Regions from separate parts of the Homo sapiens genome. Here region 2 is reported to be linked to region 1. The links are microRNA targets in miRTarBase. Many come from high-throughput screens and were not tested one by one. Region 1 holds a microRNA gene; the other region holds the end of a gene's coding sequence.
Evidence for each region. Region 1 holds the annotated microRNA hsa-miR-876-3p (UGGUGGUUUACAAAGUAAUUCA, at 1,371-1,392, shown strand). A microRNA usually pairs through its seed, bases 2 to 8, with sites in the 3' UTR of a target mRNA and lowers its output. Matches are read on the target gene's strand: a 7mer-m8 pairs with bases 2 to 8, a 7mer-A1 pairs with bases 2 to 7 and ends in A, and an 8mer does both.

Region 2: the mRNA of TRIM38 is a reported target of hsa-miR-876-3p. The part of its 3' UTR that is shown has no 7-base or 8-base seed match.

What each region holds. Positions count from the first base shown.
Region 1 is chr9:28,861,845-28,865,027 of GRCh38, reverse strand. MIR876 (microRNA 876) reads left to right here and starts at 1,322; the gene lies at 1,322-1,402. The region is part of intron 2 of LINGO2 (leucine rich repeat and Ig domain containing 2); the gene reads left to right.
Region 2 is chr6:25,983,176-25,986,358 of GRCh38, forward strand. It overlaps TRIM38 (tripartite motif containing 38), which reads left to right. Exons shown (of 8, transcript NM_006355.5): 8 at 1-3,183. The coding sequence ends at 512. Among named protein-coding and RNA genes, the nearest start is that of LINC02980, 7.9 kb to the right of the region's middle.

The DNA.
Region 1 (3,183 bases):
ACATCTGTAATCAACGCTCTTAGCACTGAATTAAGTGGCCTCTCCATGTCTCCATTAGCCCTATATGGAAACTTTTCATAACACCTATTACTGCTTTTTTCAAATTCTTGTTTTCTCCTTTGTATTTCTTGAAACCTGGAGTTTTTATATCCCCAGCATCTAACCAAGACTATGCCTGGCACATGATAAGCGCAAAACAAATATTTTTTTTTCATACATACATATTTTCTACAAATTTTTTATTTAAATATTTTTAATTATTCAGATACTTAGCAAGTTTGGCTTGGTTGTTATATGTGTGGTTGGTGGAGGTGAGTAGGGTATTCCTGAGCAGTGACCTACACTGACAGTGGTGAACTGCCTAGGACTCTTATGTTCATGAGCTTCTATAAAGCAAACTTTTAATTAATGTTGACATTTGATGGTTACTTTGAAAAATGTTGAAATTTTCAAAAGCATGAATTACTTGATTGATATTATGCTTACTAGGCTGGGAAGATTTATAGATTCTTTTCATTAATTATAAATGAAACCTTTCTTTTTGCTCTTTAGATAAAAGTTAAAAGGTGGGATTCTGGTTATTTTGCAAAGGAGAGTAACTTTATTGTTTGTTTTTCATTTTTTATTGGTGTGGTTTTCTTTCAGAGTTGAACCTAATATGTATAATATAGAATTTAGTTTTATAAACATTCTTGGACTTCAGCAGTCATATGAAAAAATACTTACTTGGACAAATATCAGAGGAAAAAACACTCAGGTTAAACTCATTTAATGATTGCCTTTGAACTTTTATTTTAAGTTCAGGGGTACAAGGGCAGATTTGTAACATTGGTAAGCTTGTGTCATAGGATATGAGATTATATGAGTATAAAGTGGGAAGCTAAGTAACTGAGGATATCTTTAGAACAAATTATCCCAGCAACACTTATATACTGTGATATGGATGTGAGAATTACATATAGTTTTATTATTTATTCTACTCCCTACTCCTGACATCTATATTAATAACCATGCCCTTTTATTTTGATGAGCAGAACCCTGTTTTTTCATCCTGCATAATGTCATGCTAGTTATTGTATTAGGAATTCTTTTAAATGAAATTTACTGGTATATAATATAGAAAGCATGCATTTATTTTTAAGTTTTATTTACTTAAAATAAATGTTCAGTGTTTCTTGTGTGTTTCAGCTAAAAGAGGGTGGTGCAAAACTGAGCATATTCTTCAATTGATTGTGAACTAGATGGAAATACTTCCTCAACTTTTGGTGGCCAAAGGGTACTGTTTTTGTTGGTTCATAGGTACCAGGCTTTACACAAACTGTGAAGTGCTGTGGATTTCTTTGTGAATCACCATATCTAAGCTAATGTGGTGGTGGTTTACAAAGTAATTCATAGTGCTTCACAGGTGCTTCTGCAGTTGATCTACACCATGAAGCCTAAGATTCCTTTACTGAGCCATTGAGAACAAGCCACTTTGTATTACAAGACACACAAAGTCAAGAGATCCCTGGTAAATATACTCTAGAATCCTTCTATTTGGTGCTTAGTGTTAACAGTGATCAAACCTGTGTCAAACACACCAGAAATTATGGTTACTTTACCTAAATATACATGTTTTACATAGTTGCTGTCTCTGTCTCTACTGTTCTTTTTTTGAAAAGTAATTTGTAATATTTCTTGGTTAAAAAAACATGATACATCAGAAACATTAATTGAATCAGCCCCTTAAATCCTAAGCATACCATTTTGAAGTTTAAATATCATATTTTATTTGGATTATTATGCCCAATTAATATATTAATTAAATAGTTTGGTAAATGATCAGGGGCTTGAAGACATCATTGTTATGCAGTACTTTTGTAAAAAGCAACATTTTATTTTAACAAGAAAAACATTGGTGTGGGCAAAAAAAATCACCTTAACATACCAAATTGTACATTTTGATGGCATATATTAAAATTAGGTATTCACTGGGCATTCATTTTCATTTACTCTTCTGGAAACAGTATCTATAGTCCTATTCTATGACAGAAAAGATTGTGTAACCTTTACAAGGTCACAAAAGCCTAATTGTTGACTAGTAATTGCTTATTAAAATAAATGGAACTTTGTGGTCATTTCTGTCATCAGGATTACCAAGAATGGATTATCCCTGACCATAAATCAAACAATTGATGATTAACTATTTTAATAACTGATTAAGCTTTCAAATAGTCATTTTGGTTTTACCGTTTTTTATTTATTTCCAAGGCTAGAGCGTAGGTCTTATTTAAGTTCAATGGTATGACTATAAGACTGTCAGAACTATGAAAACTTCTGACCTTTAATTTCTTAAGTGACACATCTGGACACCTAAGTGACAGTGGTACAGGCTTCTGAAATTACTTTTGCATCATCATTGAATATATCTATTGTATTCATTATGACTTTATTTTGTCCTGTTATGTTTCATTCCTTAGAAGTGGATTATGCATATGCTCTATAAGGTTGGGTGACTTTAAATAAATTAGCATACTAATTTTTAAGCCCTTCTGTTAGATAAAAGAAAATCAGTATATTATTTTTCAACATATAAATGACCAAAAGAATGAATCAATATGTATACTTTTAACCTTAAAATATATGTGTATAAATATGATTGGAAATGCTTTACCTAAGAAATATCTTGCTACTCTAATTTAATTTGAACTATGATACAAACATGTTATTCTTATTTCCTAGCCTTTAATTCTTCAGTATTTATTATTACCATTCCTTGTCTGATACATATGTAACCTTATTTTTCATAGGACTGTATGTTCATAAGCAAAATCCACAGAGCTCTGGGATTTCCTGTGCTTTTGTTGGGTGCTACTTTGCTGATGTGTGAGGACAGGTGGGAAAAGAGTCTGAGAAGACAGGTTTCTGAAATTAATTTGTCCTAGAGCTCTTTGATTTTTCTGTTTTATGAAAGGGGGCACCTGTAAAATTTCCTTTGAGCCGAAGCTTATGTTTTTAATGATAATATGTAGAACTGCTGATATATGAATTTAGAAGGAAGTCACAATATTTTTTCTTAAGATAATTTTTAGTTTACGGGAGATATAATGGGATGTGCTAATGGACTAATAAGCATATCTCATAATCATGTACCTATATCCTTGTATCCTAATTTTAATCCCAACTTCTTTATATTTATTTCAC
Region 2 (3,183 bases), not on the chromosome of region 1:
TGGATCCAGATACAGCTCATCACGAACTAATTCTCTCTGAGGATCGGAGACAAGTGACTCGTGGATACACCCAGGAGAATCAGGACACATCTTCCAGGAGATTTACTGCCTTCCCCTGTGTCTTGGGTTGTGAAGGCTTCACCTCAGGAAGACGTTACTTTGAAGTGGATGTTGGCGAAGGAACCGGATGGGATTTAGGAGTTTGTATGGAAAATGTGCAGAGGGGCACTGGCATGAAGCAAGAGCCTCAGTCTGGATTCTGGACCCTCAGGCTGTGCAAAAAGAAAGGCTATGTAGCACTTACTTCTCCCCCAACTTCCCTTCATCTGCATGAGCAGCCCCTGCTTGTGGGAATTTTTCTGGACTATGAGGCCGGAGTTGTATCCTTTTATAACGGGAATACTGGCTGCCACATCTTTACTTTCCCGAAGGCTTCCTTCTCTGATACTCTCCGGCCCTATTTCCAGGTTTATCAATATTCTCCTTTGTTTCTGCCTCCCCCAGGTGACTAAGGAAAAGAGCAGAAGCTCCTTGGTTTAACCAGCACAGAGAAAATAATATAAATCCCATAAGGGCAGACGTTTGGTCTGTTTTCTTCGCTGTCATTTCCTTAGTAGTTAGACTAGTGCTGAGATTTTAGTGGATATATAATTGATTTATGTTGAATATATGGACTTAGCAACTAAAAATACCACAGATGGTTAACCTGGACTGGGGCAAAGCAAGATAATAGTGATGATCGTATGTTGCTGTCTCCATCCGTCTTTAATGGGTCAGGGCTTTGATTTCCAAGGGTCTTCAGGTGATGAGTAGGGGTACCCACAAGTCAGAAGGTCTGCGTTCTCCTAGTTTGTTTGCTGCCATTTGAACTCATGTAGGGAATGAAAGAAAGCTGCAATTATCCGCCAACTGCATTTAAAACAAAACAAAACAGAAAAATCAAAATAACATTGACTCTTCCAACCACTGACATGTTGTTTAATAATCTAAGCGGCAGTCCTGGAGGCTACCAGACTTACTGAGTTCTACCTGAGAAACAGCCAAGCAAAGTGTGAGAGAAGGGTTAAGACTGGCTTACAATGAGATGCTTCAAATGAAAAGGGAATTATGAGTAAAATTGAACTTTGATGGGGGATTCAGTTCTGGAAAAGAATTTGGTATTTTCCAGTCTGCTAGGACCAATTACCTTGAAATATTTTAAAATCTCAGTAAATAGTTATTGCTGAAATGGCTGTTGGCAGTTCTTATTATGATTCAGAGAAGAGCAAATAGACCTTAACTTCATTTTGAAAAAGACCAAATTACCATACCCGAGTGAGTAATGACAGGACTACAACTAAAACATAAACAACATTAATGATGACCATAAAAAGTCACAAAATTGCTAAATGTTATAATTTAGAGTTGACATAAAAATTGATGGCCAGGCATGGTGGCTCACGCCTGTAATCCCAGAACTATGTGAGGCTGAGGCAGGTGGATCACTTGAGGTCAGGAGTTCAACACCAGCCTGGCCAACATGGTGAAACCCTGTCTCTACTAAAAATACAAAAATTAGCCGGGCATGGTGGTAGGGGCCTGTAACCCAGCTACTCGTGAGGCCAAGGCAGGAGAATTGCTTGAGCCTGCAGCAGCTGCAGTAAGCCAAGATCATGCTGTGCCTCAAGGAAAAAAAAAATTAATGTTTACTGATATTTGTTGAAGTCCTACAACATCACCTCTGAGAATAGGAGAAATGAAGCAACAGTTGTGTCTAGATGTCAGAGGCATGGCTGGGCCTCCATCTCTGCCTAAGGGAGATATAAAAGAGTTCAAACTATTGCCCATGTTCCCCAGGGTCAGAAGTTCTAATTATGATGATAGAGGCTGGGTTGTAAGTAGTAAGTGAAGGGTAGCAGAATATGCCATCTTTGGCATAAGAAGTATTTTGAGTTGAAGACAATTGAGAAAAAAAATAGATTAAAAACAAACAAACACCTCTGCCCTCTCCCTATTTGCCTAAAAGCAGGATATGAAATTGTGAAGGTGTCTTCTTACTCGGGGAAGAACAAAAGTTAGTCACCAGAGACTTTAGACTCTTATCAGCCTGGACATAGCACCAGAGAAGTCTTTTTTTTTAAAAAAAAAAAAAAAAAAAGGGAAAGAAAAAGTTGCCTTCCCACAATTTACTGCACTAGAAACTCAAAGTCCTTTTCGTCTTCCTTGTCACTTAAAAAATGTATTCTTTTCTTAAAATGCTATATAAGCCCAAGTTCTAAATCCTCTTTTGAGTATTCATCTCAGTACTCCCCTGTGTTTGTACAATGCACATGCTTTGTTTCTGTCTTGTCAATCTGTCTTTTGTTAGTCTACTTGATAGGGCCACAGATGGAGAACCTAAGATGAATAGAAAAAAAAGATTTTTCTCCCCAACAGAAGGATTATCGCCAGTTGCACTTGTTCTATATACCCGTAGTCTCGGTATGCTGACCCAGACTTGGGTAATAGGACCCAGTGGGTAACCGAGGAACCCCACCTTTGTGCAGGATCAGTGAAGATGTAATCTGGATATTCATAAGCTCTTCTCTACCTCTTGGCATCCCACAGTCCTGTGTTAATGTAAGTGTGGTCTTCCCCAGAAAGGGGAGGCCTCCCTAACATTGTTAAAGCCTAGCATATGCTGCTTAGAGGAAATTCTATATCCCTAAGCACTTAGATTGCTGAATAAGAAAGAATGATAATAAAATAAACAATTAAATAAAAGTTTTAAAAAATGAATAAAATAAACCTGTGGAAACTATAAGGAAGGCCAGAAGAAATATAAAATTGGAGATTAATTGGGGTGCAGGAAAGTTATGGAAAGAATATAAGTCCTGCTAGATAAATCATTAGCTATTTTAATAAAGAATACAGAAGAAAATAGGAACAAAAGAATATATACTGGAATAATTTTGAGAGTAATTTGAAGAATTAGATGCAAATAAATTTGAAAACCTTTAAAAAGAAACCAATGGCCTAACTGACCCAAGAAGGGAAAGAAAATCTAAACAGACTGATAAATACAAAATGAAATTCAGACACTTACAGAGCAGCCAGGCATGGTGGCTCACACCTGTAATCCTGTCACTTTGGGAGGCTGAGATGGGAGGATCACTTGAGGCTAGGAGTTTGAGACTAGCCTGGGCAAGGCTCCCATCTCTAAAA